2 separate regions of the Homo sapiens genome follow, and region 2 is linked to region 1. The links come from fine-mapping of genetic effects on gene expression. A gene starts in region 1. The other region holds a variant in brackets. All regions are shown on one strand. Distances are from middle to middle.

Region 1 (5,375 bases):
TGCCAGAAATAAATTTATGTAGCTTGTGGCTATCATACTGGACACTGCAGTTCTGGTATGGTCATGATTTCAGTATTGAATGGGCATTCTAAGCATGGAGGTCAGGACCAACTTACCTTACAGGTTACAATAGCTCCCACATCTGGCAGTAACTGGGACTCTGTTTCTCTCACTACAGACACCACTGGAAGCTACAGAGGGAACAACAAAAAACTGAAATGTCCTGACTAACCCTTGGGTCAAGGCATTTGTGGCTTGAGAGTAATATAGGAATGTCTTGGTATAAAGGTGAGAGTTGGAGTATGGATTCATTTATAGCCCAGAGCAGAAGGCCTTAGAAATTTTAGGAAATAGGAGGACCAGGAGGCTACAGAATGCTGCTAGAAGACATACATCTCTAAACTTCTTTTTTTGTTGTTGGAGACGGAGTCTTGCTCTGTCGCCTAGACTGGAGTGCAGTGGCACGATCTCGGCTCACTGCAAGGTCCACTTCCCGGGTTCACGCCATTCTCCTGCCTCAGCCTCCCGAGTAGCTGGGACTACAGGCACCCGCCACCATGCCCAGCTACTTTTTTTTGTAGTAAATCTCTAAACTTCTAATAAGTTTTTTGGTGATTCTCTCAGAATTTCTTGGTATACAACTATATTGCCTATAATCATTGACAATTTTACTTTTTTTGTTTTTTTTTGAAATGGAGTTTCACTCTTGTTGCCTAGGATGGAGTGCAAGGGTGCCATCTTGGTTCACTGCAACCTCCACCTCCTGGGTTCAAGTGATTCTCCTGCCTCAGCCTCCCGAGTAGCTGGGATTACAGAAGCCTGTCACCATGCTCGGGTAATTTTTTGTATTTTTAGTAGAGATGGGGTTTCACCATGTTGGCCAGGCTGGTCTCGAACTCCTGACCTCAGGTGATCCACCTGCCTTGGCTTCCCAAAGTGCTGGGATTACAGGTGTGAGCCACTGCGCCCTGCCGACAATTTACTCTTTCCTCCAAAGTTATACTGCTTCCTTCTGTTTCTTATTTTATTGCACAGGCTGAAATTTCCACAAAAATGTTACATAATAGCGGCTATGCTTGTTTTCTTCTATTTTAAGTGAATACTTGCAGAGTTTTCTCTTTGAGCATGGTATTGGCTGTTGGTATAAGACAGATATTTTGAGCCTCATCTTTTATCAATCTCTCCGTTGCTCACAATGCTTCAGCTCTCCTGGCCTTCTTTCAGTTTCCCCAACTTACTAAATTCTTCCCACTTTCAGATCTCTCTTCAACCTATTCTTTCTGCCAGAGCTGCACTCTCTCCACCCACCTGACTCTTACCTACTCTTTAGATGATTCAGCTTAAATGTCACTTCTGCTGACTAGGATGGGTTTGCCTGTTACATGTTCTCAAGGTGCCCTGTAATATTCTTTCAAAGCACCACCACATATGTAACCATATGCTCATTTGAGCATTTATTTGTTTACAATTTGTGTCTGTGTCCTTTGATAGCAGAAACCAAGTCAGCGCTGTGCCTGACACATGAAAATACTCAAGTGATATCTATGAAATGAACAAACTCAGGACTGTTAAGAACATTCCCAACAATGACTGAATAGAAAGCCCCTTGAATCAGACAGCTTAAGTTACTTACTCAAAGCAGAATCAAAGTCAAGTTAGCCAGAACGTAACTGTTCTAATTCTGAATCCTCTTTCTATTGTGCTCCTTCAAATATTGCTTATATGATCCTGAGCTAATCCTGGATCTATCTCTGAAACTAGAAAGGTAGGTATTACTCACACATTCAACATTTATTGAGGAGCTGCCTTGTGCTATATACGGATGGTATGGTGGTAGGGCCTGCTTTCACGGACTTAGATTTAAGCAGGGGAGAAGTCTAGTAGGAAACATATACCTGAGTGTCTCATCATATGCTGACATAGTGCTTGGAAGAAAAGGAACAGAGTTTTTTGTGAGTCTTTAACAAAACAAACAAAAACAAAACACCCCACAAAACTCCTTTCCTCAATTAGTGGGTCCAGAAGGACTTCTCTGAGGTGATAGTAGAGAAGCTATCTAAAGGAGGTAGGAATTAAATAGGCCTAGGAAGATAGAAGCGTTCCAGATAGATGGCATGTTACAAAGGCTCTGTAGCAGGAGAAAGCTTGGCGCATTACCGACACTGAAAGAAGCTAGTATGTTATAAAAAATTTTTAAAGGGCAAGCAGAGACTGTGATTATAACTTTTAAACACAGAAAAGACAGTATGACTAGATTGCGTCAGTGAGGTGGAGATAGTGGCGCTAGATAAAGTCGGAAAGGTAAGCAACATTCATACAGTATGCAACTCACTGCTGGGCTGAGCTGGGCTGGGATGGGATACTGAGTTCGCATCTGCTTTTGTCCCAACTTCCCTCCCCGAGGGTCAGCAGCACAACCAAGCGAGATCAACACAACTAGTGTGTGGTGGCTAAGTGCACCACAGCGGCGATACGGCTAGAAGAAACTAAGAGACCAACATTGTACCACTGAGGCACTAAAGACGCGTCCGCAGTGCCCATGCCTAAGGACTGGAACTCAAGGGCAGCCTAAGGGAAAAACAGAGGGGAGATGGCATGCCGCTTCCTTTACCGCGCCATTCTCGCTGCTCTTCATCAGACAGCCGGCAAGCGACGAAAAGATGTAGCCGTGGCGGGTGTAGGTGCCGCTGCCCGGGCTGCCCTCCTCCAAGTTACACAGACGTTCGCCTGCAGAAAAAATGCTGCATCGGTCACGGGCCCCCAGAAGCTGTAGGCCGTTTAGCCTTCTTGCTTCAGCCCCTATCCAGGACTCTGTACGGGAAGCGCTCACTTACCGGGGATGCAGTATCTCACAGGTGGCGCCATGATTGCCGCTGTCCCAAAACCAGGATGAAAACGAAGTCGATTTCTCATTGGCCAAACCCAGGCACAGTTCCGCAGTAAGACACGTGTCAATTGGTACTCTTTATCCTTGCGAGTAAACTCCATTTCCCAGGTTACCCCGGGACAAATCCGGGGGCGGAACTTCAGAGGTCCACGCTGGCGCCTGCGCGTGTGGTTGAGGATGGGCTGGCGGCGGGTCCGGGTCCGCTGCCTGGCGCTGCGGGCGGCGGGCCATGGTGGTTTGGATTGAGCCGGGCCCGGCCGGGGCGCCGAGTCGGAGGGGGTGGCAGTGAGCGGCGGCAGAGGCTACGGGGCTCGGTTTGGCTGACTGGGGAGTCGGCAGGCGGCAGGTAAGGGCGAAGCCTCGGCCCTTGCTCCCCATCCTAGTCCCTTTTTCTGGGTAGGGCACTGCCCTGGGGCCTTGTCTTGAGTGCGGGTTCCTGCTCTCTCCTCGCCCCGCCCTGCGGGGCCGTGCCCTCCTCAGCCCGAGCGCACCTTCCGAGCAATCGTTACGCTCAGAGCAGGAGGGAAGGAGGTCAAGCGACCCAACTCGTCTGTTTCACAGATATGGAACCTCAGATTCAGAGACAGGGTTTGACTTGTCCAAAATGATCAAGATAGTTAAGATAGAGCCCAAACTGGAACCCACGGTTTTTGACTTCCAGTCCATCGCAGTTTCACCTCGCGGCTGTCATTGAGAAATAAAACCTTTTCCCGGTTTTTTTGTTTTGTTTTTGAGGAGTCTCGCTCTGTCGCCAGGCTGGAGTGCAGTGGAGCGATCTCTGTTCACTGCAACCTCCGCCTCCCGGCATCAAGCGATTCTCCTGCCTCAGCCTCCCGCGCAGCTGGGACTTACAGGCGCGCGCCACCACGCCCAGCTAATTTTTGTAGTTTTAGTAGTGACGGGGTTTCACCATGTTAGCCAGGATGGTCTTGATCTCTTGATCCGCCCGCCTCGGCCTTCCAAAGTGCAGGGAGTACAGGCATGAGCCACTGCCTCCGGCCTTTTCCCGGTTTTTTAAACTGCAGCTTCCAGTCCTGCGGTCCGATCCTCTTCGCGGCCCCTCATCCCCACTTCAGTAAGCTTTCTCTGGTTGAAAAAGCCGAACTCTGGTTGTGTGGGCCCGTCATCAAAAGATAAGCAGCCCCAAAATAAAGTTGTTACTCTTTTTCTTCTCAGCGTGTTAGCCCAGAAGGGAGGTCTGCACATGAATAAAATGCTACTCTTTATTGATGTTGGGTATCTCCTACTTGAGATTGCAAACATCCTGAGAGCAGCGTCTTTGTCCAGATGACATTCGCCACGACTTTGATCTCAGTTCACCTGACTTCTGATGGCTTTGCCGTCTGTCCTTCCCTGTCCCCTCAGTCGACTTTCCCATTGGGAAACAGATGTGACTTAAAGCCATGGGAAGAGGGGAGTGTTGTGGCCAGCAATCTCCTCCAGTCTGGTGGCAGATGACCAGTATGGCCTGTGACTATTACTGAAGGATCAGAGTACTCGGGCTTGTGCTTGGGGTGGTAGTAAAGCTGCGCTTTGCTCTGTTTCCTCCCGTTCACTGAGATTAGCCCCTTCTCCCCTACACACATCTTTTTGAATTTTGCTTTACTTCTATTTCTTGAGATGAAAAGTCTGGGCCAGGTGCGGTGGCTCACGCCTGCAATCCCAGCACTTTGGGAGGCTGAGGCAAGCACATCACCTGAGGTCGGGAGTTTGAGACCAGCCTGACCAACATGGAGAAACCCGGTCTCTACTAAAAAAATACAAAATTAGCCAGGCGTGGTGGCACATGCCTGGAATCCCAGCCACTCAGGAGGCTGAGGCAGGAGAATTGCTTGAACCCAGGAGGCGGAGGTTGTGGTGAGCCCAGATTGTGCCATTGCACTCCAGCCTGGGCAACAAGAGTGAAACTCCATCTCAAAAAAAAAAAAAAAGAAAAGTCTGTGTGTTCAGTTGCGGCCCACTTACTACATATGTAATTTTCCTGGCATCCCATACCCCATTAGCTAATGGAGAGAGGCCCTAGCCTCAGACTTTGTTCACCCAAATCTGTATCTGTGCGTCTAGGAGCTTTCTGTTTACACGGTTGGGCTGATTTCTGGTTGGGCTTGTTTTCAAAAACGACTTCTAGCTCCTAAGTGCCATGATTTTAATAACAGTTTGTATTTCTCTCTTTATGAATCAGGAAGAATGATAACAGCAGACACTTATTTAGTGTTACCACATTGGCAGGAGTGTCCTTGCTGGTATTTGTAGGACAGATAGACATCTGGCCAGGCTTTCCACTTCTGCATCCCTCCAGGTCATTCATTCAACAAATATTTATTGAGTACTTCCATGAGCCGGGTATTGTGCTAAGTGCTTTATAAACATTTCATTTACACTTACCAAAGAAGTTTGCTCTTCATACCTGTGGGTTTCACATTGCTGATCCAATCCAACCATGGATTGGAAATATTTGGGGGCAGCTGGGCATGGTGGTTCGCTCACA
Region 2 (5,375 bases), 32 kb before region 1:
CTCTGTCTCTACTAAAAATACAAAAAATTAGCCTGGCGTGGTGGCGGGCACCTGTAGTCCCAGCTAGTCGGGAGGCTGAGGCAGGAGAATGGAGTGAACCTGGGAGGCGGAGCTTGCAGTGTGCCGAGATGGCACCACTGCACTCCAGCCTGGGCAACAGAGCGAGACTCCGTCAAAAAAAGAAAAAAAAAAAAGAAGCCTACAGGGGATAATTAGCCAGGCATGGTGGCACACGCCTGTAATCCCAGCTACTTGGGAGGCTGAGGCATGAGAATTGCTTGAACCTGGGAGGTGGAGGTTGCAGTGAGCCAAGATCGCGCCACTGCACTCCAGCCTGGGCAACAGCAAGATACTCTGTCTCAAAAAAAAAAAAAAAAAAAAAAAGAAAGTAACCTATGGGGGAATGGTGAAAAGACAAGCACAAAACTCTTCGGTTTTCTTATTTGTACATTGAAGATGTTGTACCCAGAGCTCTCTAAAGCCCCTGGTAACTTTATTGTTCACTGATGCTCAATTAATAGAATTGCATTTTGCTTCTCTGCCTCCCTCATCTGACCATCTGACTGTGAAACCCCTGATTACAGGAACCATGTCTGGTCTACTCTGGCGCCATCAGAGCCTACCACAGTGTGTGGCTCAATACATCTGCTTGCCAAGTGAACACATGACTTATGCAGAGCTCAGCAAGGGGCACAAGAGAGGTTCAGATAACGCTCTTAGGGTGTCTAAGAGGGGCTGTCCAAGGTATATCTTTTATGTCTGTCAACCAGACTGGAATGCAGTAGTCATGCAAGCTGGAATGCGATCACGGTTCACTGCAGCCTTGACCTCCTGAGCTCAAGCAATCCTCCCACTTTAGCCTCCCAAGTAGCTGGAACTACAGGCATATGCCACCATGCCCAGCTAATTTTTAAATTTTTTGCAGAGACAAGGTCTCCTTATGTTGCCCAGACTGGTCTCAATATTCTGGGCTCAAGCAATCCTCCTGCCTCAGCCTCCCAAAGTGTTGGGATTATAGGCGTGAGCTATCTTGCCTGGACAATAATTTTTGAAGGTTGCAATCAAGGAAAATAACAGAAATGTTGGTCCATCATTTATCCAACCACTATACCATCCTGCCAAGTAGATTGGGCATTGTGGCAGAGAAGAGGAGAGGAAAATAGCATTTAATGGATGTATCCTTTGTGTCAGGGGCTCTCTGTGGTAATAAGAACTATCATTTATTAGCCTCTATAGACCTGGCACTTCACATGTGTGATCCTACTGAGTCCTCGCAACCACTGTATAGGGTAGGTGCTATTATTATGCACATTTTATTTTATTATTATTATTTTTTATTTATTTTTGGGACTGAGTCTTGCTCTGTCGTCCAGGCTGGAGTGCAGTGGCATGATCTTGGCTCATTGCAACCTCCACCTCCCTGGTTCAAGCAATTCCCCTGCCTCAGCCTCCTGAGTAGCTGGGATCACAGGCACATGCCGCCACATCTGGCTAATTTTTTTGTATTTTTAGTAGAGATCGGGTTTCACCACGTTGGCCAGACTGGTCTCAAACTCCTGACCTCAGGCAATCTGCCTGCCTCGGTCTCCCAAAGTGCTAGGATTACAGGGGTGAGCCACCGCGCCTGGCCTATTATTATTTTTTCTTTTTTTCTTTTTTTAATTAGAGACAGGGTCTCACTATGTTATCCAGTCTGGTGTCTAACTCCTGGCCTCACATGATCCTCCTGCCTTCGCCTCCCAAAGTTCTGGGATTACAGTCACGGGCCACTGCACCTGGCCTATTATCCACATTTTAAAATGGGGAAACCAAAGCTAGGGAAAGATTCCCAATAGCATTAAGTGGGGAGTTATAATTGTAATTTACTCCTCTCCCAATTCCTGTTCTTTATAACCATTTGGTTACCAAGCAATGAAAGCAGCCTAGCTCTCACATCTAGAGTTCACAGGCTGGTTGGGGTGGCAGTAAACAATCCCTGTGGCAATCAGTGCCATCATCCAGGTATGGTCAGGAGCTATGGGAGTCCAGAGCCTGGCAGACTATAGTCATGTCTGAGAGGCGAGTCAGGGCCAATTTTCAGGTGAGGTGACGTTGGAGCTGAGTGCTACAGCATGAGCTAGAGTTGACCAGGAAGCTGAGGGTGGCTGTTCAGGCCAAGCAAGGCCACAGCAGCTACAAAGGCACAGGGGCAAGTAAGAACACGATGTGTTTGCTCTAGATGCAGGCAAGACCTGAGTCACTGATGTGTCGGAAACTGCTGCATCAGTACAGGAAAGAAACCATAAGGGTTGAAACTAAGAATGTGGCAGCGGGGGCAAAGAGGGAAGGACAGATTGGAGAAGGTATCGGGGAGGTAGAATGACACGTGAAGGCTAGCGGTTATGAGGGGTGAGCACGGTTGCCGTGTACAGTTGTGAAGTATGTGGACTGCTTAGTTTCCCAGATGAGGGGTCTGAAATCCAGTCTTCATTGGTGCCTTGTAGAGAAGAAGAGTTGGCCTTTTATTTTATTTTATTTTATTTTATTTATTTATTTTTTTTTAGGCGGAGTCTAGCTCTGTAGCCCAGGCTGGAGTGCAGTAGCACAGTTTCAACTCACTGCAGCCTCTGCCTCCCAGGCTCAAGCAATTCTCCTGCCTCAGCCTCCCAAGTAGCTGGGATTATAGGTGCCCGCCCCCACGCCCAGCTAATTTTAGTATTTTAGTAGAGACAGGGTTTCACTATGTTGGGCAGGCTGGTCTCCAACTCCTGACCTCAGGTGATCTGCCCACCTCGGCCTCTTAAAGTGCTGGGATTACAGGCGTGAGCCACCACGCCTGGAGTTGGCCTTTTTCTCATTCCCCAGTGACACCATAGAGGCATATGATGCGTACAGGTATACGAGGCTCAGAGGCATGGAGGCAATGACACCACAGAGGAAGTGAGAATCAATCGCTCCCAGGAAGGCAAGATTCCAGAATACGAGTGTGTCTAAAGAAAAGACCATCTCTCAACATCTGAACCAAAAAGCTGCATTTACTACAGTACTTACTTAAGGGAGGTGGAGCTGGGCCTGTTAGGTGCAATCCCTGTGAGTGGAGCAGGGCACTGATCTTATATAAGGTGCTAGGAGGTTGAAGATCAATGGTGGGCACATATCAAGGGAGGTAGTGTTTAGGGATTGGTTGGCCAACCAGTGTGGCTGTTACCGATTGGCTGGTGTCAGATGTCTGGTCACTGAGGAAAA[T/C]TGTTCAGCTGAAGGGAGAGGAATTGTCTTTAAGTGGCTTAAAACTGGTTATGGTGGTGACTTGTTGCCATGGCAGCAGAACAGTCTTTCCTGTGGGTATGAGCTTTTTTTTCCCCCTCAAGTGACTGTAGCTCAAAACATTCACTCTCAGAGGTTGTTTTCTTTTATAAAGGACCATGTTGGCTCTGGGGAGGGAAGTTCACAGGCTGGCTAGGGTCAGAATACTTGCCTGGCCCAGGTATTCAAAGGTCCAGTTTGTCACCTCTCCAAGATCCTGTGGCTGAGGTGTTTCCAACACAGGGAATCAGGGAAGTTAGTTGCATTGTAAGGAACATACCTAATCAGAAATGGGACCTAGGGCTGGGTGCAGTGGCTCACACCTGTGATCCCAGCACTTTGGGAGGTCAAAGCAGGAGGATCCCCTGAACCTAGGAGCTTCAGACCAGCCTGGCCAACATAGTGAGACCCCATTTCTTAAAAAAATAAAAAAGCCCGGGCGCGGTGGCTCACGCCTGTAATCCAAGCACTTTGGGAGGCCGAGGCTGGTGGATCATCTGAGGTCAGGAGTTCGAGAGCAGCCTGACCAACATGGTGAAACCCTGTCTCTACTAAAAATACAAAAAATTAGCTGAGCATGATGGCGGGTGCCTATAATCCCAACTACTCGGGAGGCTGAGAAAGGAGAATCCTTTCAACCCGGGAGGCAGAGGTTGCAGTGAGCCGAGATCGTGCCACTGCACTCTAGCCTGGGTGTTACAGAGCAAGACTGTCTAAAAAAAAAAAAATTAGCGGGGTGTGATGGCACATGTTTGTAGTCTCAGCTACTTGGGAGACTGAGATGGGAGGATTGAGCTCAAGAGTTTGAGCTCAGGCTGCGGTGAGTCATGATCACACCACTGCACTCCCACCCACAAGACACAGTGAGACCTTATCTCAAAAAAAAAAAAAAAAAATCAGAAATGAGACCTAGGATCCCGGACTCCCAGTCACTTCTTCCGTAAAGGAGAAGATGAGGTGCTGGTGGGCAGTGTGGTGCAGCTGGCCAGACCTTACAGCCAGCTTTTGCCCCTGCCTTCTCCACAGAAGCCTCTCCTTGGTCTCTCCTTTATGTCTCTCCTTGGGCTTAGTGGGAACCACATGTGTTTGCCCAACCACAACCCTAAGAACCATCCCTGGAGCTGCCATGGGAGGTTCTGAGCTCTGTCAGGACTAGGGTAAAAGCAGACGGATGCTTTTCTGCAGCTCAGTGGCCACTTAGATCCACCAGAGCTACCCGCCCACTTCACTCCCATTGAGCAAAGGCTTCTGGTAGGTAGGCTCGGGTGGGTTTGTTTTTTAAAATAATTGTTTAAAACTTTTGGTCAGGTGCGGTGGCTCATGCCTATAATCCCAGTACTTTGAGAGGCCGAGGTGGGTGGATCAACTAAGGTCAGGAGTTCAAGACCAGCCTGGCCAACATGGTGAAACCCTGTCTCTACTAAAAATACAAAAATTAGCTAGGCATGGTGGCACAAATTTGTAATCCCAGCTACTCGGGAGGCTGAGGCAGGAGAATCACTTGAACCCAGGAGGTGGAGGTTGCAGTGAGCTGAGATCGTGACACCGTACTCCAGCCTGGGTGACAGAGTGAGACTCTGTCTCAATAAAATAAAATAAAAAATAAAGTGTACAATTCAGTGGTTTTTGGTATCTTCACAGATGTGTGCAACATCACCACAGTCAACTTTAAAACATTTTTTGGCACCTCAAAAAGAAACCCCACACCCTGTATTTATCACCCCCAACCCTGCCAGCCCCTGGCAATCACTAATCTACTTTCTGTCTCTATAGATTTGCCTATTCTGGACATTTCATATAAGTAAAATCATAAACCATGCAGTCTTTTGTAACTGGCTTCTTTGGCTCAGCATAATGTTTTCTTTTCTTTTTCTTTTTTTTTCTTTTTTGAGATGGAGTCTCGCACTCTCGCCCAGGCTGGAGTGCAGTGGCGTGATCTCGGCTCACTGCAAGCTCCGCCTCCCAGGTTCACGCCATTCTCCTGCCTCAGCCTCCCAAGTAGCTGGGACTACAGGCGCCCGCCACCACACCTGGCTAATTTTTGTATTTTTAGTAGAGAAAGGGTTTCACCATGTTAGCCAGGATGGACTCGA

What was found.
Region 2: its variant is fine-mapped to the expression of EXOSC1 in whole blood (TOPMed, PIP above 0.99).

The regions. Positions count from the first base shown.
Region 1 is chr10:97,443,121-97,448,495 of GRCh38, forward strand. It overlaps EXOSC1 (exosome component 1), which reads right to left and starts at 2,886. Exons shown (of 8, transcript NM_016046.5): 1 at 2,835-2,886; 2 at 2,612-2,727; 3 at 117-191. The coding sequence starts at 2,865. ZDHHC16 (zDHHC palmitoyltransferase 16) reads left to right here and starts at 3,055. Exons shown (of 12, transcript NM_198046.3): 1 at 3,055-3,233. RefSeq lists enhancers at 2,015-2,595, 2,596-3,175 and a silencer at 3,107-3,316.
Region 2 is chr10:97,410,888-97,416,262 of GRCh38, forward strand. No RefSeq gene overlaps it. Among named protein-coding and RNA genes, the nearest start is that of RRP12, 12 kb to the left of the region's middle. The variant T/C (reference allele first, on the strand shown) is at 3,226.